Linked DNA regions of Homo sapiens: region 1 is linked to region 2. The links come from fine-mapping of genetic effects on gene expression. A gene starts in region 2. The other region holds a variant in brackets. All regions are shown on one strand. Distances are from middle to middle.

The links. PIP is the estimated chance that this variant, and not a neighbour inherited with it, causes the effect.
Region 1: its variant is fine-mapped to the expression of EGFR-AS1 in sun-exposed skin (GTEx, PIP 0.95).

The regions. Positions count from the first base shown.
Region 1 is chr7:55,116,739-55,133,329 of GRCh38, reverse strand. The region is part of intron 1 of EGFR (epidermal growth factor receptor); the gene reads right to left. Among named protein-coding and RNA genes, the nearest start is that of EGFR-AS1, 64 kb to the left of the region's middle. RefSeq lists enhancers at 1-550, 1-690, 1,204-2,111, 2,417-2,576, 2,587-2,666. The variant G/A (reference allele first, on the strand shown) is at 8,406.
Region 2 is chr7:55,185,241-55,193,240 of GRCh38, reverse strand. EGFR-AS1 (EGFR antisense RNA 1) reads left to right here and starts at 4,292. Exons shown (of 2, transcript NR_047551.1): 1 at 4,292-4,384. It overlaps EGFR (epidermal growth factor receptor), which reads right to left. Exons shown (of 28, transcript NM_005228.5): 21 at 1,367-1,522; 22 at 400-475. RefSeq lists enhancers at 272-1,157, 6,867-7,640.

The DNA.
Region 1 (16,591 bases), 64 kb after region 2:
GCCTCCACCACCCCAGCAGGCTCACTGGGCAGCTCACTCTTTCTTCCTCAGCTTTGCATGAGACAGCTCAGTGCTGCCTGCCAGGGTGCAACTCTTCTCTTCCTAGACAGGCCCTCACAACCGAAGGCACCCTAGCAAGGTGATGTGCAGGTAAAGACAGGCAGGGCTGCCGGGAGTTCACCTCGCTGGGCGCTGTCTCACCCAGTCCACACACCTTTTCTCCTCTATCTTCTATTCAGTTCAGGCCCGTGACTCACTCCTTGATGACAAAGGCTGAGTAATATTTCCCATATGAAGCTGTTTATTTGCTGGTTGAGCTGTCGCCCTAGAAGTCATGTGAATACCAAGCATGGCTGAGAAGCTCCGTGGCCAGATGGAGTCAGCCACAGAGGTTGCATGATGACCCTTTGGCCAGGCTCACTCCACCCTGCTCTGAGATGCACACCAGGCACCAAAGTTGCTTGTTCTTTTGTTCATTAATTCAACTACAACATATCTAGTAAAGTAGCGCGAAGGTAGCTGCTAAGGATGAATCAGAAGTACTCACTGCCCTGAAGGAATATGTGAGTCCTTTGGGGAGGCAACTTTACACATGAAACAGTCACAGGACATCTCAGAGCCATGCAGTGTAGAGGTGTGCTAAAGGAACACACGTCAGAAAGAGAAGTCAGTCAGCTCGAGAACTGGGACGAAAGCACCAATATTCCTCATTACCAAGCAAATGAAAACATAATACTTCACATTCAGATTAGAAGACTACCTTGCCTACAAGTGCCAAGTGTTGGGCTTGGTGACTTCACCATACGTAAAATACATAGTCCCACCATTTACCACTAAAAATAAAGTTTCTTCCATTTCTTTTTTTTATGCCTTCCCATCCTCTGGATTCGAATTGGGGGATACAAGTTATTATCCTTCCTGGTTTGTTCATAGTTATCTGTAAGAAACACATCTTCATTCATTCTTCTTATAGTCAAAAATCCTGAAACAGATATGTAATTTGCAAGGAAATAAAAGATCTCTGACTCAAAAATTGGGATTGGAAATTCTTTTTGCAAATGTTTATCTGCAGAGAGATTTTGTTTGGCTTCCGTGGGGTGGTGCATATCCACCCCTAGCCCAAGATGGTTTAAATGTTCTTTTAAAATTTTTCTTCAATTTTTACCCATGTTTTTTAAAAAATCAATCTCTACTGCAGAATTGCGATTTAAAGCCATCTCTATAAACATACACACATTTACATTGGTTTACCCATGAACATTAGGAAAAAAGCATAAAAGCCCCTCTTTCAAAAAAAAAAAGACAACCAAAAATCGAAAGAAAAGAGCAATCACAAAGACACCAGGAGCAGGTCAGTGCACCAGTGTGCTTCTTTTTTTTTTTTTTTTTTCTGAAAGCAAAGATGCTCCCTGCGCTTGTCCCTTTGACCTCTGCAGCACTGGGCCACAGAATGGCCACGTCTAGCTGCTCCACTGTTCCATGACAGCTGTTAGCCTGGGAGGCTGTGCTGTGTGAATGTCTCTGAATGCTGACAGCGCAAGGGGTCAGCAGCAGGGACCTCAGAGCATGCTGGACACCCCAGGGCCTCTGGACTTTTCCCCCGAGGGTCAAACATGCAACTCTCAGTACTGACAGGAGCAGGACAGCCAGTGAATTGAATTGCTGGGGGGCAGAGGGCGCTCAGTGCCTTTGGGGTAGCTTGGGGAGAAGCAGCTTCGAGAGGGAGTGTCCGAGGGGCCCAAGCCGCCCCGCCTGTGGTTTCTAAGCCGACCCTAAGGTCTAAGCTCGCATGGTGCTGCTTCAGGCTGGAGGTGTTCCCTGAGTCGTCGTCATCTTGTCCTCTTTACTGCGGGGAACAGATGAGAAGCAGTAAAAGGAAGAAAAATAACCTTCCTAAAAGATTACTGACTCAATTTTACCAATGAGCAGTCCACTGCTTGCTTTTTTCAAGTTATAGAAACATGTCATGTTGTCAGCAGAACGATGCAGCCAGTAGTTTATGTTCATGTCATAAAGTGTTTGAAGAGTGAAAAAAAAAAAAAGAAGGTGGAAAGCCAGCCTCTGCCGGCAGTTTAGTCGACAGAACCACAGGCAGCTGCACTGTTACTGGCACATGTCAGTGGGCACTGGGCTCAGTGGAGTCCATGGTTTGGAATCCTGGTGCCACCCCTATGAAGGCAACATCTTAATCATGTTGGGTCTGTTTTCTTCATTTGTAAAACAAGGACTCATGTACCTGTGACTCCTGGGAGGGAAGTGAGAGGGGAGAGTCCCTGGTCAAAGCACCTGGCCCCTTAGTCAGACTTGAGTCTGAGTGAGACTAGAGGGGTTGCACAGGAGGAATCCCGTCCCTTTCTCTAAGCACTCAGAGGTTGCCGGCCTGCCCTCCTGCTCACATGTTGTGATGACCTCACCATGGAGCGGGGAAGCTGGTGCTGACCGCAGCTGACCAGCCCGCCTGGACACAGGGATGCGTCTGCGGCTTGAAAGGAAGGCAGCTGGCCTTGTGTCTAGCAGGGATCCTGTGCGGGGCACATACAGCTGAGAATTCCCTTCAGGGAACCCAGCATGCTCTCAGAACAGTCTCCACCCCTGTTCTTTTTCATTTAGAAAAGGGCCTCGCCTGACCCTCTGTGATGGTTTTGTAAGCGTGGTTGGATTTGTGTGCTCTGAGTGTGTGTGGGTTTTCATTTAACGCTTGTTTTAAAATGAGCCCTCTTCTCACTTCCTACTCAACTGAAATCCTCCTTTTAAGTTTCATTTTAAAGTGGGTGAAGGGATGTAGCAGTGTGAAGACAGACCTTGTCCCGGGGGCGGGCGTGAAGCTTTCCCTTTCCCTGGCTACCCTGTAATCCCAAACTCATTCCTGGGGTCGTTGACAAGGAAAAACTGACTCAAAAATCACTAACAACTACCAAGTTAACTCAGGAGAAGCCCCAGCCAAGTTTCTGCCATAGAAGAATCTTAATTTTGGCTCAGGACATTCTTGCAATAGGGCCGCACTCCTGTTTCTAGAATATATTATCCCTTCCATGAGGAGAGCTGCTAATTAACAGACCAGTTCCTGCACGTAGGCACTTGACATTAGATGGCTCCCCTGCCTGAAAAAATGAGTGAGTCGGGAGTGCTATCCTGAGCTGGCTCTTTACTGCCCCAGGCCTGAATCTAGTGAAGCATGAGCCTGAAGCAGCGCTTGCCATGTCTCAGAGAAGGGCTCAGTAAACCTCCTCTGAATACAGCCAGAGAGTAAATGTTTTCAGCTTCACCCATCATATGGTCCCTGTCCCAATTATTCAACTCTGCTGGGATAGTGTGAACGCAGCCACAGACTGTAAGCAAATACATATAGTCATGCTCCAATAAAACTTTATTTGCAAAAACAGGTGGCAGGCTAGGCGTGACCCACAGGTTGTGCTTTGCCAGCCCCTGTTTTAGGGAAAGGCCTAGCAGGAGGTCAGGAAGTATGTGATGAGGAGCCCTTTCATCCTATACTTTCTAGAAGACAGACCTGGTTGGAGTGATTCATTTTCCCCCAAGGCCAAACTCCAAAAGGATTTTCTTAGTGCTAAGCTCTTCCTATTTCATCATCAGCTAAATAAAGGAATTGAAGTAAGATACAAGGTCCTGAAACCGGAGAGGGAAATGCAGGGGCTGGGGATTGTTATTTGTGTGTGTTTGTGTGCAGGGCAGTGTTGCAGCTCCGTGCTGGGCACAATTTACTTCTAGATTGGGATACTCACTCCCTACCCTCACCACTCCCACCCAGGGCCCCTGCCTTCCCATACTCTACCAAATGGTTGTCCACTCCTCCTGGACCATTCTGAGTGACTAGGAGTGTGTGAAGAAGCAGTCTACTCTTGTTATTGACAACCCTATCACATAATTGTTCCTTATGTTAAGCTGAAACCAGTCCCTTGATAATTTTGTTTGACTTAACACAGATGCAACGTATTGCTTCTCTACCTTACAGCCCTGCAGATATTTTAAGACAATAATTGTTTCTCATCACGTTTCTCACCCCAGTGCTTTCCTGCAGATTCCCCGCCTCCACAGCCCTCCTGGGAATTCCACGTGTGTGGCCTCTCCACACAACTACATCCTCTGCAAAGGCCTCCCCAGCTAGATCTGCTTCTTGGCTTCTGTAGTCCCCACGGCTTTCTCTCATGTATGAGCACTCACTCACACTTGAGTGCTGAAAGCATTCTATTATTTCACAGCACATTTTGTCCTTTAAAGAGATAACATGTCATCTGAGAACAGCACAAACATTTTGTTTTCTTTAGCTTATTATTTTGAAAAATTAGCAAGCAATAAAAAGATAAATAAAAATTGTTGAATTACTGGAATGCATGCATGAACATCATATATAAGTTTTCAACAGATGTGATTCCCTTTTCTGTACAGTGTAATAATGAATATGGCAGTTGAGTAATGAAAATGGAATCTGTATTCCATCTATTAATAGTAGGCCTGACGGTAAATTGCTCTCAAGTTTGGATGAGGAAGTATTTTTCCTTGCTTTGGTCTCCCCTAGGTTTTAGTTTCCTATCACATCCTACTAGCTTAATAGAATTATATTTGCTATTGACTACAGATATAGAATCTTGTAGAAAACCCATTTTCTGATTGAATATATTTGAGATCTAACTAGAGTGATATTTTCCAAAAACATGGAGTCTTCTAGAATACTAGACAAGAAAAGATATCATTGCCATGCTTTGCTTCATTATTAATTACTATGCAAGGGAATACACACAAATAACTTGCAGGGGTGAGTCACAGAACACACGTCGTATATTCTTTAAAAAATTCCTACTTTCAACTTTTCTCTTAGGTTTTCTTTTGCTTTTTGAAAATGTTTTGTGATTCTCTTCTTTCATTAAACTTTTTAAAATAGCTTTCATATTTAAGGGCAAACTTTCTTAAATAGCTTTCATATTTAAGGGCAATGACTAAGGTGAAGCTGCTCCGCCATGACAGTAATTTTAGACCAAAGAATATTTCAGTGGATTTCTTTAACTCTCAGTAATAAACTATTTGAATTTCTCCTCCTTGGGGACAATTAGAAATGAACCGCAAAGGGACACATCAGCTGCTTTGATCAGCAGAAGTGTCTTTCAAATGCAGGCATCGTTCGGTGGTCTAGGAGACTCGTGGTAATGAAGCAAGAAGAGGAGTGGAGCAGCAGGGCTGGGGCCAAGTCCCTGGGTCTAGAAAGCCACTATGAATGAACGCTGCTTGCACCCATTATAGGTCTAAGCACCAATCCAGGCTCAACCGCTCACTCCAGGAGGATGGGAAGCCTTTGTTTTGGTTCCTGTGCCAACTCTGGCTTCTCTGGCTGCCCCATTCAATCTGACAGAACATGTTGACGGAGATAAGGTTATTACTGGCTCCCGCAAGGCCCTACCATGTGAGGTGGTTTCCAGTGGCCTTTCCCGGGGCTGAGAGCGGGGCCTGGTGAAATGGACATATTATAAGAAGTCTGCAATCTGTAATCTGAAGCAAGCTTTTGTTTTTCTTTTTAAGTTGACTGCCTGGTTATTGAGGCCAGTAACCAGAGAAGGGAAAAACTGGAAGTGTGTACTTTGTGTCTCAACTGAATTCATCCTGAAGTTGTTTATTCTGGCCCACTGTCAAGTCTTTATAAGGGGGGTGTTGGCGGCAGAAAGGATTGGTCCTAATGGCTATATGAGTGCCTTCTACTCAGCTAATTTCTATGCTGTTGAACAGCCATTCAAAGCGTATTATTTTTCCTTGAAGCCGAGAAAGTTTCTATACAAGCATTCCTTTGAAAGTGCAATTAACTTTTGTAACAATTTGTGCTTTAGTTTAAGAATTGCAGATGTTGTGTGGGTGGTGGGGGGTGAGGGGGTGGGAAGGAGAGGATGAAGGAGTAAGGATATAGATGCCTCCCACTTGGAAAATGTGGTAACACTTCCTTTCGTGGAAAAAGCGCATCAATTTTTAGAATTACTAAAACATTTAGATGGTTGGTGAAACAACTGAGAAGGCCGTGATGTTTGGTTTGGGGGAGGTTGGACTGGATCATCTCCCAGCTTCCTCTCCTTCCTAATGAGACCCAGATCTTTGTGACAGAATTATCTGGAATTGTGATTTTATGCTTGGAAACTGTCCAAAGGTTGGGTAGCAGAGCCCTGCCACTCATCAAAAATGCTAGCTCAATTTGCAAAAGAAATACAAAACCCAAAATGTCACATCACCATTGGGATGTAAGTATTGATGTGCGTGGGTCAGAGGAGCTCTTATTAACTAGATGGTACATTAGTTTTCACTGGGGAATGGTTTTCACCATTAGAAATACACTTGCACTGCCCCCAAGTCTATTCCTTATTATTTAGTGTTAGTTTGAGGTTAAGCGGGGGTGTTTGGTTTCACTGAATGTTTGTGGCTATTTCATACTACGGTATGATCCTTAGTAAACCTTCTACCTCAAAATCCACACTACTTTTTGTATAATGAATATCTCACTCATCCCCTGACAAACAAGATAACATTTATAAAATACTTTATAGTTTGCATTTGCTAATAATCTAGATTTTCTAATTCATGTATATCCAGTACTTAAACTATTAACAGAAATCAACCTAATAAGGAAACTATTGAGATTCAATCCCACTAGAATTAAATCCCTTTTATATGTGTGACTTCTAGGAAAGCAGTTAATCAGAGGCAGTGCAGGAGCATTTCTCTCCCCCTCACTGGTATGTGGGGATGAGGTGTGCAGTGGGGGCACCTGGCATGGTCTTTGAATGCATGGGTCCTGGCTTCACAAGCCTGCGTTTGCACCCAGCTCTGCCAACAGTAGTGGGGTCCCCTTGGGCAAATGACTTCTCTTTACTAGCTTCACTGTCCTTGTCTGTTAAGTGGGAGTAGAAGAATGCCTCCCTCGTGGATTGTTGCAAGGATTAAATTGTTAATATTTGCACAACACCCAGAAGAGCATCTAGGTCATGTAAGTGGTTGCTGTTGTCATCGTCCTTTTAGGATTAGTATGTGCAAAAACGAACAGTCCTGGGACATAGCATTGACTGGAACCAATGCTGTTCCTGCCCTCAGGAAGCTTACCATCCAGTGGGGAGACAGACATTCACTGAATCATCACAACATCACAACTGTGATTATGCCATGGGGATGATCTAAGAGTGCAGAAACCTGACCTGGTCTGAGAGGTTCTGGAGGGGTTCCTTCAGGAAGCAGTTCAGCTGGGCTTCTAAGGACAAGCGGGGCCCCGCCACATGTGGGGAAGAGTTGGGGGCAGGGGACCTTCCTGGCAGGGCAGGAGGAGAGGGACTGTGAAAGGCTGCCTGGCTGAACAGAGCCTAGCAGAGATGAAGCTGAGAGTGTGAGGGGAAGTGGGATGGAGAGGTTCCTGCTGCAAGGCTTGTAAGGACTTTAGATTTCATTTGAAAGGCACTGAGAAGCCACTGACAGATTCAAATGAAGAGGAACATGTGCAGATGTGTGTTTTTAAGAATGCCTCTGCTTTTTGGAGGGGGTCCTAGATGGCATCTGGAAGTGGGCGTGTCTGTGACAGCACAGTGCAAGGGGCCCTGTAGCGCACAGGTGCTCTGGACTTCGCCTGGGTCAATGCCTCATCCTGGCTGTGACGCTGCAAGACGTCTCCGTGGGGAAAGCTGGTACGCTGGATTTATCCGCATCATTTCTTACAGCTAGTATGTGTGAATCTACAATTTTCTCAAAACAGACAGTTTAATTACATAACTTCTTGAGATGTACAAGCTGTAGGGCAGAGCCCTTGCAAAGAAATATCATCCCTAGGTATGTGTTTGCTTTATGGGAGGAGCTGGCACCCCAAAGCTGGAGCACCCAGTGCTGTTGGAAATGAGCCTGGCTTCTGGCAGTGCCCTGGTGACAGGTGACTCTTCTTCTCTAACTGAGATAAATGGAGTTAGCCATAATAGCTTGTAACTTTCAAATACTATGATTTTTTCTTATAATTTTTTAAAGCATGTGGTTTCAATGTTGCATACTCAACTTATGACTAATAATTAGTTTTCTCAATCCCATGTTGCACATTTTAGTATTAAATAATCTCCTTCTCCCAACTTGAAACACAAACACAAAAACAGATCTTACTGCCATGTGGAGAAGGGCCCATTAGGCCTCCAGGGAGTGTGGAGAAACCCCTAGGAGGCGACAGCAGAGCCTGGAGTCCCACCACTGAGAGTGTCATCTGCAGCACAGCAGCGGGGACATCCCCAGGAGCCTGCTGGAAATGCAGCCCGAGGGCATCCCAGATTTGCTGAATCAACATCTGCACTTTATTAAGGTTCCCAGGTGACGCTCATGTATGCTGAACTTTGCAAAACAGTGCACCAGGGAGATGGCAGGGTGAAGGGGCACAATGGACACCCCGACAG[G/A]GGTTAAAGAGGGTGAATCGACAAACTTGGGGATGGCTTAGCTACAGAAAGATAGAAGAGAGTGGCATCAAGTAGCTGTTGACATCTCCAGGTCAGAATCGGGAATGTTCGAGTGAGTATGGTAGTAGGAGCACTGGAGGCTCAGGTTTATAGACTGTGAATTTGGTGTGGAGCAAGGCATGTGGGGCAGCCAGCCTGAGATAGTGTCTGGTCTTTCAGCTAGGGCTGTAGAGGAAATCAGGGCACCCAATGGATGATCAGAAGGGAACGGATCCTGACTGTTGTCATCTTGGCTGGAATCAGCCAGTTGAATTGCCCCCGAGGGATCCATCCTTTGGATCAGTTATGCCCCATCTAAACTTGCAGATGATGATAATGCAGATTTCATGAAAATCCTAAGATCCACAACTCTTAGCATAAAGCCCTCTATAGTTTTTCAACCATAAGTTGCAATCAAAGAATATCATACACAGCACCATGATTTTAGAGCTTAAATTTGTAATTTTGAAAATCTGAAAATTTAAGAACTGAGTTAAGCAAGTCTCCAAGCCTTGGCCCAGGCTTATTCATTTTTTATTTTGAATAATTTAGTCAATTTTATGGCCAAAATACCTCTCCAAAAACCTGGTAGAAATTTGAAATATACTCATATCAATAAAACATGTTGGAACAAAGGTTTTAGATTTGATTGAAGTAGTATGGAATGTCATAGGGACATTTTCTGACAATAGCACTGGGAAACATATCAAGTCTGAACATTTTAAAACCATGACTGATAGGGAGAAAAGTTTTTCCTATAATTTAAGCTATAGCTTTCTTGTTAATTTCCCTATTTCTTTATGCACTTTCTCTAACTAGACTCTAGAACTACACGCATACATTAATACACACACATACACCAAGCACACATGTACATTCACACTTTTATGTGCATACACACATACTTGCAAACAGATGCATAAAACACACATACATGTACACAATACATGCCCACACACGTATACACACTTACTTGCACACACATGCACACACACACACATCCATTTACACACGTGCATGCATGCACATACGGGCACATTCACATGCACACACACACAGAGATTTAATTCTAGTTTGAGTTAAGAAAAACCTGCTGCTCTAGTCTTTTATTACTCTCCCCTCCTGCTTGATTCCTCTAGGTTTCTTCTCTTCTAGGCTTTCCCCCTCATAAACTGCCACTGGGATTTGAATTGACATTCATATCCATGAGATATTGTAGCTCTAGACCTCCTCTTGCAAAGCCTCATGCAATAAGGCATATGATAAATGTGAGATGGAGACCCTCAAGCTGCTGCCAGCAATTGCTTATGTGCACCAGTAGACTCTGAAGATATTTCACAAGGAGGTACACTTAGCTATGAAGAAATGCATTTCCTACAGATGCTACACCAAAAAGGAAGACCAGAAAGGAGAAAAATATATCCTTTCTGGGATATATAATCTGAAAGAGATATGCAGTATTTTTAGTTAAGTTTTCTTTATATTTGTTTGTAAAAGGAATGATATATCAATTACTCTAAGCAAATAAAATTTGCAAATTAATTTCTTAATTGATTGCACAGATATTTGTTTCAAAGAATGACTCTTTAATCACCTGGCTTTGACCGCAATATCACCACAATACCTTGAGTTAATCTGAAACGTACTATGTTGTACCAGGAAAGGTCTGTAATCACATATCACATTTTCTTCCCCCAGACGTGATATTTAATACACAACCTGATAAAATAAAGGTAATTAGGTAGATGATTTTCAATATCTTCTATAGCAAGCCTGTAGACAAAAAAAGAATTCCTGACCTAGTCTTGTTGATTTTTTCTTACTACAAACTAGCCTGGTCATCCTTCTAAAATATCCCACCATGTGAATTATTTTGATGAGATCTTTGCATTGAAGGTTGCACTGTGCTAGTGTGAACCATTAATTAATCAATTCATCAATTAATCAGCTATATACTGAATACAAGACACTGCACGCTGGCCCCAGCACTGAGGGAACTCAGTTGAATGGCAGAAAAGCAAGTCAGCCACTACCCCACATTGTGACAGATGCTGTTGTGGCAATACTCATGAGACATGCTGGAAAAGAAGTTGAGGCAGCTGCTGATTTTCAGCTAAGAGAGGATGAGGGACACCTCATCAGACTGAACAACTAAGGAAAGTGTCCCAGAGGATCTGATGCTTGAGCTGTCCTGTGATGGATGGCTTGGAGGTAGGCAGAGGAGAAAAGGGGAGAAAGGGCAAAGGGAACAGAGAGTGAGAAGGCACAGAGAGGGGAGGCAGCAGGAGGAGTCAGCACATCTGTGAGAGAGTGAAGATCCCATGCAGGTTGGAACGGCTGCTGCCAAAAGTGAGCGGAGCTCAGAAGGGCAGAAATGCGCAGCCATGGCTGCCTCTTGAGGGCGAGGGTAGGAGGCTGTGCATTTCTTCAGCAGCACACAGCGTGGCTGTGCGGTTCCCCCCACTGCCACCAGCAGCCCATTGAGGACACATGCTGCACTGGCCCAGGCATGGACTTTGCAGGTTGGGCAGTAAGAGGGGAGTGAGGGAACACTAACGATGTGAGGCTGTGTCATGCAGACTGGACAAAAAGAGGGAGTGAGACCAGATGGGAGCTGCCAGGTGAAAAATCACGTTACCAAAGGCCAAGGTCGACGGAGGACTAGAGTGCTCCATGAGCAAGGCTGAGAGTGCTGGGAAGACAGCAGGCCAGAGAGAAATGTGGCCCGAAGACTGGAGAGGTAGAGCCTTCCCAGTTATGGTGGGGTCACAGAGGCTCCTAGAGAGCAGATCTCTTCAGTGAATTGACTTGTTGCACAAAGATTATCTAAATAAATTGTTATCATTTCCTTCCAGAAGTGGGCTCAGGTCTCCCCTCCAAGTCTTTTTGGATAGTGAAGAATCAGTAAAGAGCCCCTAATGCGGATTAAAGAGAGATGCCCAGATCCACTGGACTGAACTGGGCAGCAGGGAACTGCCTTTGAAGAACAGGCCCCACATGGGACAGCTTCATTCCCAGTCAAGGTCACTGTCGCACAGAGGCCATATATATTTGTTAAATGACTGAATTACTTATGGTACAAACTTGACTGCATCACTTAAATGCTTTTCGATTCTAGTAAGAGGAAGTTCTTCTAATATTAACTTCGATTTAGTGGAAGTTACCCAAGAAAGCTCAGTAATCCAAAATAGAAGACAAAGTCACCATTATGTGATAGAGTGTTGTATGTCTAGGGGTCTGTTTTTTATGGTAATTCTCTGAACCAGGAGTTCCAATGGAGAGAACAAAACTATAGTGGTGGTGGCTGGGCAGAAGGCTGACAGGGAGACAGAGCAGAAGACAGCACAGTCACGCTGCTGGCTACTAGGACAAATGACAGCTCTCGAAGGGCAGTACCTCACATTCCTCTCATCACAGAAAATGAGAAGGTGTGTAGGACATTCTTCTAATGGCTGAGCTGTTACCTAAGAAGGGTAACACACAATGCCACTGAAACGCCATATGATATCTGCCAGAGGCACGGGGCTCCCATTGACTCCTCCTCTGTTGAAATGGATTCTGAAAGAGCAGCAGCAATGAGAGAAGAGAGCCGCCTTTTCCTGGGAATGTCTGCCAAAAAATGTTTACCTTCTCTTCCATATCAGAGTTTTATCCCTCAATCTATGTATGGTTGTAAGCAGCTAAGCATTCAGAAGTTTGGATTGTATGGGCTTTCTGAAGAGGACAGTGTGAGGAGCTCTTGTTTTCATGCTAAATTGGAGACTTCATCCCTGCACAGTATGACACACTTCCCTGTGTTGTAAGACTTGGATTTAGTTCATGGAATCTTCCAGGCTTTCAAAACAGATGACCTCTCACTAGAAGATCCACTTATCTCTTTCCCCTTGGCCCTGTAAACCAGCCCAGCAAAGTCCCAACTTGCAACAAACAGGCAATTCACTCTACCGGAAAACAGTTATCTAATCTCTCAAAAATGACACCTGGCCAGTTTCTAACCGTAATGCCTTTGGACTCATTTCCATCAAATGTCTTCCTATAAGCAATGTTAACAATGTCTTTATAACTGTAGGTGCTGTAACCAGTGGAGAATACAATTAAAAATAGGAATATGCAGCCCGATGAATGCCCTCCACTCCAAACCAGTGTTATGAGATGTGTCAACAACGTTCCCAGGAGAGCTAATCTGTTCACCATTCAGCAAGTGCTCACTGAGCCCCGGATGTGTGCCAGGCCCTGTGTGTGCTGTGGAGATACCAACAGTCTCCGCCCGGATGGAGCTGACAGTCTAGGAAGGGGGATAGATGTTAAATACTCTGGTGAATATTTCTCCCACCACCACCCATTGGCTGATTTAAAAGGAAAATGGGGGATGCTTTGCAGATGGTTCATTTCCATGTAAACGTCCTTGTGGTTGTAATACATTGCTTTCTCTACTAACAAGAGTTAACTTTCAAATGAAAAAATGGAGTGATTATTTGTCAAACCAAAGTGCTTTCTTCATTATTAATAAAGTTGCTCAACATCCCTTTAGTAAGTGAAGTTATTCACACAGGGTACCAGGAAGTGGAGATAGTCACATATTAGCCCTCTTGGGCCCTCCACGTGTAGGCAGATGAACAGGAACCACGAGGGTGGGTGGCGTCCCCCAACACTGGAGAGCAGGCTGTGTAGAGTGCTCTTGGTCATCCTGTCTGCAGTCCTCCTGCCAGGGAGGGCAGCACCTGATCACAGAGAGACACAGCGATGCAACAGAAACACTGAAAAAGAGTAGCTTGTCCTGGCCCACGTCAGCGGCCTCGGGTCCATCCAGGTTTGCAAAAAACAGGAAGGTTTTCACTTGTATCTGGCTACCCAGTCAGCATACTGGCCTCAGCACTATTTGTATGTCAGGAACTCATGAGACCAGTACTTCTCAAACTCTCATGGACATAGGAGTTACCCAGGACTTTGCAAAAATGCAGATTCTGAGATTTTGGAGGACCTGGCCAACTGCATCTCTAACACACTCCAGGGATGGTTGTGCCCATGGCCCTGGGGAGGTGAAACAGATTTGGGGCAGTGGTCACCTGCTGCAACAGAATGTGTCCTCCAATAGAAGGACCTTTCAAGACACTGATAAGGATGGGTCAAGAGGAGAGGTGAACCAGGGCAGGGTGGGTTCACGCAGCCCAGGAAGACAAAAGCATAGGACCGTATTGTCAAATGCAGAGGGGCCAGGCCACGCCAGAGCGAGGGGAATCCCACAGATGTAGCTACAAAGGGATCCTTGGGATACCTTTTTTTGAACATTTCCTAGATCAGTTTCAGTAGAGTGGCTAAACAGAGATATTACATTCTGAACAAATTCAGGCTTTAAACAGGAGAAGATACACAGTGAGACTCTCTTCCCACAGCATTTGCTAGGGTAACACCAACTCCAATTATGCTGAAATTCTAGTTTCCAAATAGTTGATGGTTGTTGGGGATGTACAGCATCAGAGCCAACATTATCCCCTATATGTTTCTGGAACCACTCGGAAGATTGTGTTGGTTTCAGGCTCTATGTCATGGCTTATTGTCTTAAACCAGGAGAGTCTGACATCCAGTTCCAAGGCTGTAATCTCTCTCTGTTACACCTCATGGGAAAAGGGTTTGTAGGTCATGATAGACACTGTGTATGGAGAAATAGGTACTCAATTCATTAGGAGGGCACTCTCTCAAAAGGCCTGTAGTTATTGATCAAAAATTAATTTTATAGCTTTCACATTCTTCTCAGATCAGATGTATTAGAAAATTAAGGTCTTGATGATGCCTTCCTCTTCTTGCCAGGATAAATTGAATGGCACTTGAACTGTAAAATGAGCAGGGGAAAGAGCAGAGTTTTAGGCTTACTTGGTCCATTGTTCACTTCTATTCTTTTCTCCTTGACTTTGGAGGAAAGGTAGGATTTGTTAATAAAAATGTTTTTAAAATTTATTTTTAAAGTTAAACTAGCTTTCTAGTATGAGTTTTTTAAGTAAAATAACCAATTTTCCCACGAGTTTGCTACTGAGAAAACACTGAATGGGAAGATTTGGGGGAGCATTTCAGGCTGATGGGCTGACTTCTTATGTGTCACTTCACCCCTCCCTGTGCAGTCCTGGTTCCCGCCCGCCCTGGGACACTTCTCTGTGGATCTGTGAGATCACAGCTCCTTTGTCGGCCCCTGGAGCTGTCACCCATGGCTCTGAATGACTTAGTGACTTGTCATGTGCCAGTGGACATGACATTTCTGGAGGGCAGAAATGGTGTCTATCCAGCTAGCCACAGCCAGTGCCCAGTGGTGGCCTGACACATAGTGGACAGTTGACACGTGTTTGTTGAATGACTACCCCAAAGGTGGCAACCTTCCACACAGCCGGGGAGTGGGGGAGAAATGTGTTCAGAGGCTGGTCCACCTGCTTCTACCACTCTGGTCTTTGGGATGGTGCCTTCAGGTACCTACTGAGCCTATCTTACTCTAGTAATCTTTTAAAGTATTTGAGATTACCAGTGCTTCTCAAACTCCAATGGACATAGGAATTACCCAGGACTTTGCTAAAATGCAGATTCTGAGATTCTAGGAGGGCCTGACCATCTGCATCTCCAACATGCCTCAGGTGATGGTTGTGCCCGTGGTCCTGGAGAGGTGACATAGATTCAGAGCAGTGGTCACCTATTGCAACAGACTGTGTCCTCCAACAGGAGGTCCCCATTAATTTCAGAAGCACTGGCAAAATGCTCAAAAGGGTAATCTCCATCTAAGCATTTTATGAATAAAGGATTCATTAATGAAAAATTAACTTGTGCTGGGCACTTTAAAAACCACTAAAATGTCAAAGTGTAATTGTAACGCAATTCTAATTTATAGACACGCCGAGTCTGAGTGGTGTCAGGCCCTACTCTGGTCTGGATTCCCTTCCTTCTCCTTTTCTGGGGGCCCAGTTCTGCACAGGTGCATGTCTCAAACTAACTCCAGTCTTCCCAGCATCAGCACTGAAGTTCTAATTGCAAATTTTCAGTGTTTTGGCCTAGGAAATCTAGCCTTTTCAAACTTCTGAAGCCTCAAATATACACTTTACCAATGCTTTTCCGCAGCCCTGACTGTGTCATTCACCATGACTGCAGAATCACATACACATATGCAAACCCTCGGGAGACTTGGTCTTCCTTGCTCCTTCGTTGAGGGCACTCTGCACAGGGTCTATGGCGCAGAAGGGAATACCGCCTAGGACTTGATCGCAGCAGTATGCCCTGGTGGCTGCTTTGGGATTATTTTTTATAACAGAGATCTATTAAAGGGCCATGTTCCCTGGAGGAGTTCTCCCATCATTCCAGGTGGTTTCCTCCAGGGTTGCCCCAGCTCTGCTAGTATCAAATATCCTCCTAGGGCAGCAACCATGGCCAAGAGCCGTTCCTCTTTGACAAGCTGCCTCGTTTTCTGCAGCTTACCTATAACATGCTAATTGAATGTGGGAGTTACAGAGTGTGGGTCCCCCCCACCCCGGGAAATGCCCCTCCTTGTAGACTGCTATGTCTTTCATTGGGTACCATTATTTCTCATCTTTTCTTGCCTGCATTCAACAAACTTTTACCGATCTAAAAAGGTGGCAAGACAACTTTTACCCACATCTCTATTCCACTTTATAAACTATTTGAATAAAAAGATTAAATATATTTCCCTTCAAATTTGCTGAATAGTTAAGTAATTGATATGGAAGATGTATGTGGCAATCTTTGGGGGTTTACTGTGAGCAATTAGGAGATGTTTTCTACTGCTGGTGGTGTATAATTTGCTATAACTGCGCTGGAAAATGTTTTGGCAATATCTTTCAAAGCTACTAAAGCGACCAGTACCCTCTGACCCAGCAACGCCACTCTGAGGTACCCAACAGAAATGCAAACAAAAGTTCACCAGGGACACGTGGGACAATATTCATAAACTTGTAACTGCAAGAAAAGAGAAAGAACCCATATGTCCATTGGCGGTAGAATGGACGAACGCAGTGTGGTATTCTCCTATGATGGAACTGCCCAGTTATGGAATGCAAGAAATACAATTTTGCAGCACAGCATGGAAAAATATCAACACATAATGTTGAGTGAAAGAACCTGACCCAAAGGAGTACCTACTGGAGGATTCTATGTAA
Region 2 (8,000 bases):
TTAAGCCTCATTTCTCTACCGGAACTATTCCCCATTAAGCTTCTTCTGCCACCTCCCTCTGGTTCACTTCAAATTCATGGCAACATTAATGGTTTGGTTAACGTTAAAGTTTGGTTGGACTTTGCAGGGAGAGCCGTTTCCTAAGCTCTTTCCCTCCCATACCCCCCACCCTGCCAGACGAGCTCATTGCAATCTCCAGTGACTTTTGGACGGCAGCTGGACTCGATTTCCTCTGCCGTGTTTTCTCAGTACAATAGATAGACAGCAATGATTACATTATCATTAGTCATTATCTCGAAAGAAAATACTTGCATGTCAGAGGATATAATGTAAATTAACTAACAATAAAAGCCAGCTTGGCCTCAGTACAAACTCATTAGCATCAGGATTATGACTCACCGTAGCTCCAGACATCACTCTGGTGGGTATAGATTCTGTGTAAAATTGATTCCAATGCCATCCACTTGATAGGCACCTTGGGATGGTGAGAGATGAGGCAGTGAGACAACTATTAGTTTCCCTCTGTTGGAAAAAGTTAACTCACTCTGGACCTAATTACGAGTGACACACACAGACGAGCCAGATCACCCCAGGACCCGTCCCCCAGGCCCGGCGCCTCCTCCCGGCAACAGGGGATTTCAGTCTGACGGAGTTCAGGGCTGCTCTGGTAGGTTTCTGAGCACCCTCTGTGTCCCAGGCTGCTCTGGTGAGCTGGGAGCCCTGGTTGTGCCCAGTGGCCTCACTCATCCAGGTCTGCGTGTGTTTTCAGGGCCCAGCATCATGGGTTGGTGGCTGCTAGGAGCCAAGCAGGCCAGAGTGAAACCTCAGAGGGGCCTGGCTGTGGGAGGGCATTCGAGGGCCTGACAGGGGACGCGCACCCCTTAGTGCTGTGAGGGTCCCTAAGAGAAACCGAGCCAGTGAAGGGAGAGAAGGACTCCATTGCTGCCTGTCCCAGCCACGAGCCACAGACAGCCCTGGGAGCTCGGGTCCGCATGGGGCCTTTCCTGTTCCTTAGGTGTCCTTGACAGCAGTGGACCACCAAGGCAGCTGTGACCTTTCCCAATTGCGCTATTGAAGGGGACTTATATATCCTGCAGGGAGAGACTGAAACCTAACATTTGCTAATGATCACCTGGGGATAACATCCTCATTCACTGTCCCAGCAAGTACTGTTCCCAAAGCAGCTCTGGCTCACACTACCAGGAGACCCTGGCTGGACCCAGCTGCCAGCAGCAGCTGCTGCGAGCTCACCCAGAATGTCTGGAGAGCATCCTCCCCTGCATGTGTTAAACAATACAGCTAGTGGGAAGGCAGCCTGGTCCCTGGTGTCAGGAAAATGCTGGCTGACCTAAAGCCACCTCCTTACTTTGCCTCCTTCTGCATGGTATTCTTTCTCTTCCGCACCCAGCAGTTTGGCCAGCCCAAAATCTGTGATCTTGACATGCTGCGGTGTTTTCACCAGTACGTTCCTGGCTGCCAGGTCGCGGTGCACCAAGCGACGGTCCTCCAAGTAGTTCATGCCCTGAAACAGAGAAGACCCTGCTGTGAGGGACAGATCATCATGGGAAGAAGCTCTGCATCCGAATTCAGGGTCATGTTCATGCCAGGCTCTGAGCCTCTCCACGTCGAGGACTTATGGCTGGCGAACGTTAGTGACTACTGATCCAAAGAATGGAAAGGCGCATGAAAGAAGATGTAACCCGCTGCTGACCATTAACTTTTCTCCATCCAGTTCCTCAAGTTTTAAGTCCAGAGGTGCTCGTATATGAGGACAAAGAAGAGCAGGAGCTCTGCTGCCCAGTTGAGACCTGGGCTTGAACTTACTGGACTTGCCAGGCTGACCTTCCTGCATGTGGTTTATCTGCAAAGTGGGGGTGGGGGGTGGCGGGGACCATGCCCTCCTCACCAAGCTGGTGCAAAGGAATGTCGTTCAGGGTTTTTAAGCCACACTCTCATTGTGCTTTCTTGGACTCTCTGATATGGTTCACTGCCTATGAAGATTTTTGTCCTGTTTTACTTTTCACTGGTTTATTATTATTATTATTACTGAAACCACATGGATACTGAAAATGCTTTTAGAAGACACCACCCTCCCCACCTCCCTGGCTGCCTCCACAATCTCGCTGCAATTGAAATCTCTGCTCTGAGAGTAAGAAAGGAATAATATGTGAGAAGCAGCCAGCACAGCGCCCAACAGAGTGAATTCCTAGAAATGCTACCCTGACCCTGGCTGATCCTGACCCACGGCCTCTGGTGTCCTTGTCACATGCACCTTTCTCCCTGCTGGCTGCTGGGGTCACTGCTGACCCCTGCTCCTCCTTGCTTGACGGATGCCTACCTTGCTGAGCCCAACTGTCCCAGGCTTTGGCCTAAGAATGGCAGCCTGCATCTCTCTGCAAGGGCCAGGCTGGCAGGTGGGAGAGGCTGGGAGGGGTCAAGTTCTGCAGACTTCTTATTATTGTTTCTACCACACTCTCTTCTCTCTCCACCAAGAGGGTGGGCCACCTTTCTAGTTCCCTTTATGGCTGATGTTCATGTACTTTCTAGTACAGAGTGGGCACGACAGAAATGCTTGCTGCGGTGCAGCAAACAGAAACAAACAGGCATCTCTAGCCTGCTCCACTCTGCCGCTCCTGTATGGAGGGATCCCACTGTAGTGTGACTGCAGGGAAAAGCTGTAGATGTGGATGGATTCCCAAGTTTTCTGGCAAATTGTTTTTTTTTTGCATGAATATTATGTGAAAATGATTTGTTGAATTGGCATGTCAGAGCAAAATTAAAATTTTTTCTTTCTCAGGCAAAACCAGTCATCATAAGAACCTAGGGTCTCGCAAAGATGCTATGCAGAATTAGTCTTTGGGCGCCGTTTGTGAGGCCTTTAATGTTTTTCTCTTTTGGAAAAGAGACGCTTGCCTGACACCCACGTCTCATGACTACATGGACTGTCCCCTCACCCTGCACTGCCGAGAGCGCTCCTACGGGTTTCCGATGCTGCTGGACGTTAGTGCTTCCCTGCCTACTTAAGAGGAAATGAGCAGGTTCTTCTCTGGACAACACTTCCAGATTAGGAAGTATTATGTCAGGATGGTGGGTGGAAAGGGAGAGGAGAGGGGGGGCAGAAGCCGAGGAAGCGCTTCCCAAAAGAGGACTGGCCCAGACTCCCTGCTACTCTGGCAGCCTGGGTCTCCTTCAGAGGCAAGCTCCCTGCCCCCGCTGTCTGCCTCGTTTGACTCCTGCGATGCTGACTTGCTCTCTGCCTGGTACCCTGTCTCTTACAGAGCAAGGCCTCTGTTTATTAAATATCATGAACTCCTGCCCATTCGAAAGGGAGAGTTAGGCTCAGCCTCTTGCTGGTTCAACTGAGTGTCTACCTTCTTGGCTGTGTGAACTCCCAGGCTATCTCCTCTTCTCTCTTCTCTGTCCCTTGATTTCTCACCCTCACCCTTGCTTTCTCCTTTCTTTCTACCCTGTTCGTTCTTCACATTTGTACCTTTTGTTCGTTCTTCACATTTGTTGAAGGCGTCCTCTGTGGTAGCTGTTGAGCAGGAGTGGCACAGGCCTACAGTAAAGAGCCACACACAAGTCCCCATGCAGAGGACCAGGAACCTCTCCCTTTCTCCCTCTCTATTTAAAATGCGTGGTTTCTACATATTCATTAAGCCCACAAGGAGGCCCTCAGAGCACATTCCCAGCTTCGTTTCACCACCACTGCTAACTTTCATTCTGCCTCTTTAAATGCTTAGCGGAGATTTTGGTATACTGGGCACATTTTTAAAACGGCCTGTTGAAGAATGAACAACTGAATGAATGAATGATTGAATGACTGGTGATAGCAGCTGACAGTGCTGAGCACTGGCGATGTGCCAGCCCTTTCACACACGTCCGTGCAGACACCTTTTCTATCCCAGTCCCCACACGACCACCTCGTTAGATGACCTGGGGTCCAGAGACTGAAGCATGTGGCTGCACAGACCAAATACCCTGAGACCCCAAGACCACTACTGGGACCATGGCTTTAATTGCCCTGCTGGGAAATGCACCTGCTAAGCCAGAGGCTGCTTGGGGTTTTATATATATGCATATGTGTGTATATATATATATGTATATGTGTATATATATATACACACACACACACACACACATTATGTGTGAGAGCATGAGACAGCGTGAGCATGCACCTTGGTCCCGTGCCTCTGGGGAAGTCCGCGTCACTCTGTCAATCTAACAAATCCAGCTGACCTCTGGCCCAGCCCTTCCCCACTCCTCACACCAGGGCTTTAAAGGACCTGAGCCATTTCTACACAGTGTCTGTTTCCTCAGAACACCGGTCTTCACCAAAGGCGTGGGAAAGGGCAGAGAGCACAGGACATATTCTGGAATTCAGGTAATCAGTTGGAGGGTTTTAAGTCAGAGACAGCTTTGGGACAAGGAGAGAATCCCATGTGAACTTAGAGGAGACTTGACGCATGGGTCTCCGTCCCACTGCCGGCACATTTGAAAGGACAACTCTGTGCCTGGCGCAGTTATGCTTTAACTGGTCCCCAAAGATAAGAGCTGCGATACGGCCTGTGAGCTCCCAGGGTCCGAGCAGAGGTCGCAGGAAGAAATATCAACAAAGCCTCAGCGGGGCCTCTCAGGAAACTCAGTTCCTGCTTCTTCTCCGAGACCCTCACTTTAATTGAAATTAAAATATTTATTTTTGTTAATTACTACAGGAAAACTGGAATGAATTTTGAAATACAGCACTGAGGTTAAAAGGGGATTTGAAAAGCCAGCCTGGAACTTCCACTTACAAAAAAGAAGGCTCTGCTCCACATGGCTGTCGGGGCTTATTCTGGCAGGGTACCCCAGAGTGAGGGGCGGGGGCTGTGTTTGACCTTGAAGGGCTGGGTGTTCCCAGGGGCTGCCGCACCCCACGAGTCTTGGGAGGAGTTCAGAGTGAGAGGCGGGAACTGGATTGTTTGTGTTCTATTTTGTAAATCTCCTGTGGAAGAGCTCATGGAGCAGTGACTTAGGAAGGAAGTGGAGGAGGGGAGGACGAGAAGGCCGCGTGGTTCTGGTGGAGTGGAGGGCTTTCCTATCAACACTATTCTGTTGTTGCTGTTGTTCAGAAGTATTTATTTAAAGCAAGATCAGAAAGAGGCTTAAGGTTCATCATCTTCAAAATAACCCACCTCTACCAGAACCATGCTGAGACCAAGACCACCATCACCCTTCCCCTGGGGGCTGGGGCTCACCTCTCACCTCCACTTTGGGCTGGTCCTGAGGCAGGCAAGGCCAGACACTCTTGGCCACAGCTAGGGAGAAGGTGAGGGGCCCCGCAGGGCTTTCTCAGGCCTCATCTTCCAGGATCCCCCTGTACAAATGATGGTGTTCTCCCCTCAACCTTTTAGCCCTTGGGGTGCTGGTGGGGAGGGCAGCCCCACCCCAGAGACCCACCTGCAACTGGTAGAGGTAAGGGATGGGGTTCAGGGGGGCTCTGAAACTACGGATCTGATGAAGTTTTTAAGCAGAGTGGTCACCAGGAGAAGCCTCCGCTCCTGTCTCTGGACTCCAGATCTCAGAGCATCTGTGGCCTTGAGCTCCCTAAAAAATGGAAGAGTCTGTTCCTCAGGCCAGCTTGCCACCTTCCCAGGCAGGCATAGAGTAAGTGCTAGACCTCGGAAGAGGCAGGAAAGTGTCAGAATGTCCTATTCCTAGACAGAAGTGGTGCAGCACGGGCACCCTGCTGCTCAGGGAGGGAGGGCTGCTGGGACCCCTGTCCTGAGAGTCATGCTCTGAGCTGGGGCATCCATGCAGGCTGAGAGGCTGCACCATGGAACCAGGCCACCTGGATCAAATCCTGAGATCTTGGCAAGTGACGTAAACACCGCATGCCTTTGTTTCCCCATATGTAGAATGGATTAATCAGAGGGTGGAATGAGTTTATGTAGAGATAGCACCCATGGAGAGTCCCGGGTAGGTGCTCATGATTGTCACCATTTCCTCCAAATGCCAAATCTATTCTCTCTTCTCCATTCCTTTTGCAGCGACCTTGAATTTGGCCACCATCTTGCCTTTGTGATGAGGCTCCATGTGCTTGGCCCTGAGGGGTCCACCCCTCCTCCCCAGTGTCCCTTATCTGGTGGTTTCCTCCCTGTCCTCAGCATCTCCCAGTCAGAGTCACTTCCCCACCCTCAAGTGCCTTCACGCCCTGTCCGCAGCCAACTCTCACCCACAGAGGCCTCCTGGACAGGGAAAGGACCTGTCACGCTGTTTGGTCTGCAGGACTCACGGCTCTGGAGGGTGAGGGGCCATCTGGCTTGTTCACTGCTATCTTCCCAGAGCCAGGGGGCTTGGCTGACAGACCCATTCCATTCAAACTTGGAGCTCACCCTCCCTGTGCCTTGCATGGTGGCCTCACTATAGCTGCGCCTCCTGCTCTGACCTGCTTCCCTTCCTGCTCTGTATTTGTTGGCAAACTTGGGGAGATAAGAAATTTTGTCTTACTTCTATATGTATTTCATGTGATGCTTAACACTAGCAGGTAAATGCTTAAGAAATAACTAGTCAAAATGTCTAAAGATGATGAATGTGCTTCAACAGCACTGTGAGCTTTGTCTTTTTAGTGATATACTAAAGTGATCATTAGGTTAAGTTTAGCTGCGACCCTTTGTGGAATACGCAAGAACAAATAAAAAAAATAACTCACATAACTGAAATCTCTGGTCCTTGGACCTAGGAATCCACAAAGCTGTGTGATGTGAACGTGCTGGGTAAGTCATCCTCTCTGGCCCAGTGCAGACGGGATCAGGAGGTGCAGGGCTGAGTCACCACCCTGGGGCCACAGTTAGTCAGCAGGGGTAGGCTCTGCCGAGTCCTCATCTGAGGATGGGAAAGCCATGAGGGGAGGGAGCAAACCTGGATGACGAAGGCCGGAGCCCTCTGGGACCTGCCTTGCAGTTGCATTGGAAGCAATGTAGAGCAAGCCAGGGTCTCTTCTCCATGACAGCCTATCTCCACCAACACACTGTGGCCCTTCCTCAGTGCTCCACCCAGTGTCACTTTCACTCTCTCACAGTCCTGCTTGTGTGCTATGACACGCACACAGCACGATCTGTCAGCGTGGTTTTCGTGACCTGGCACCTAGGAATAGGCCTGAGTGGCCTGGAATGTGCTGGCACCACCAGCTTGGAGTCTCCTTCCCTGTCTCCCGGTGTGGACGGGATAGCCCGGCCCACTCAGCTCATCTTCCTCTCCCTCCCATTAGCAGCTCACAGGCACTGGGGCTTCTTGTCAGTAGCAGAGCCGTGAAAGCACCTAGGGCTTTTTAAAATGGACTTGGACCAAATTAAGTAGCCCACGTACTTGTAAAAAGGAGCCTTTGACGTTTTCTTTGATGTTCATCTGCATTAAATTTTACCTCATAGATGGAACTAAGTGTAGTTTGGTGCTTATACAGTTGTGGTCAGAGAGTGCCATGTGTAAGCCAGTTTCATTCTGAGAACCCTGCCCCACCGCTACCGTGCGTTGTTCACCAGGCCTGGCCTCAGGACTGTAAACTGATATTGTTTGCTGTACTACAGAACCACATCAGTGTCTGCCTGAACACTCAATTCTGTGAGACTGTAATCTGCATTAGGTGATGAGAAAGCTCTGTTGTCCAAATAGTTTGGAAGAATGTGAGATGAGTTGCAGTCTGAATGGCAGGACTCTGCAGTCCTGGGCATGGGAGGCTCCACGGGGAGAGGGTGGCACAGGAGCAGGGCTTTCCAAACGGCACGGATGACGGGATCTTTGGATGACTGTGCCGTGTGATTTATTCTGGGATTTACTAGCTGGCTTGTAAATCCCAGGAAGAGTAGACAGGCTTTCTTAAGTCTAACTTAATCCCAGTGCATGAAAGCCACTGTGAGCTCCTGTGTGGGGAATTTAGGAGGCACCTGCTCTTTCTGGCTAGTAAGCAAGTGGTGTCTCCGCAAGCTCCTGAGATGGTTTTGCATATGGAGAACAAAATCCAT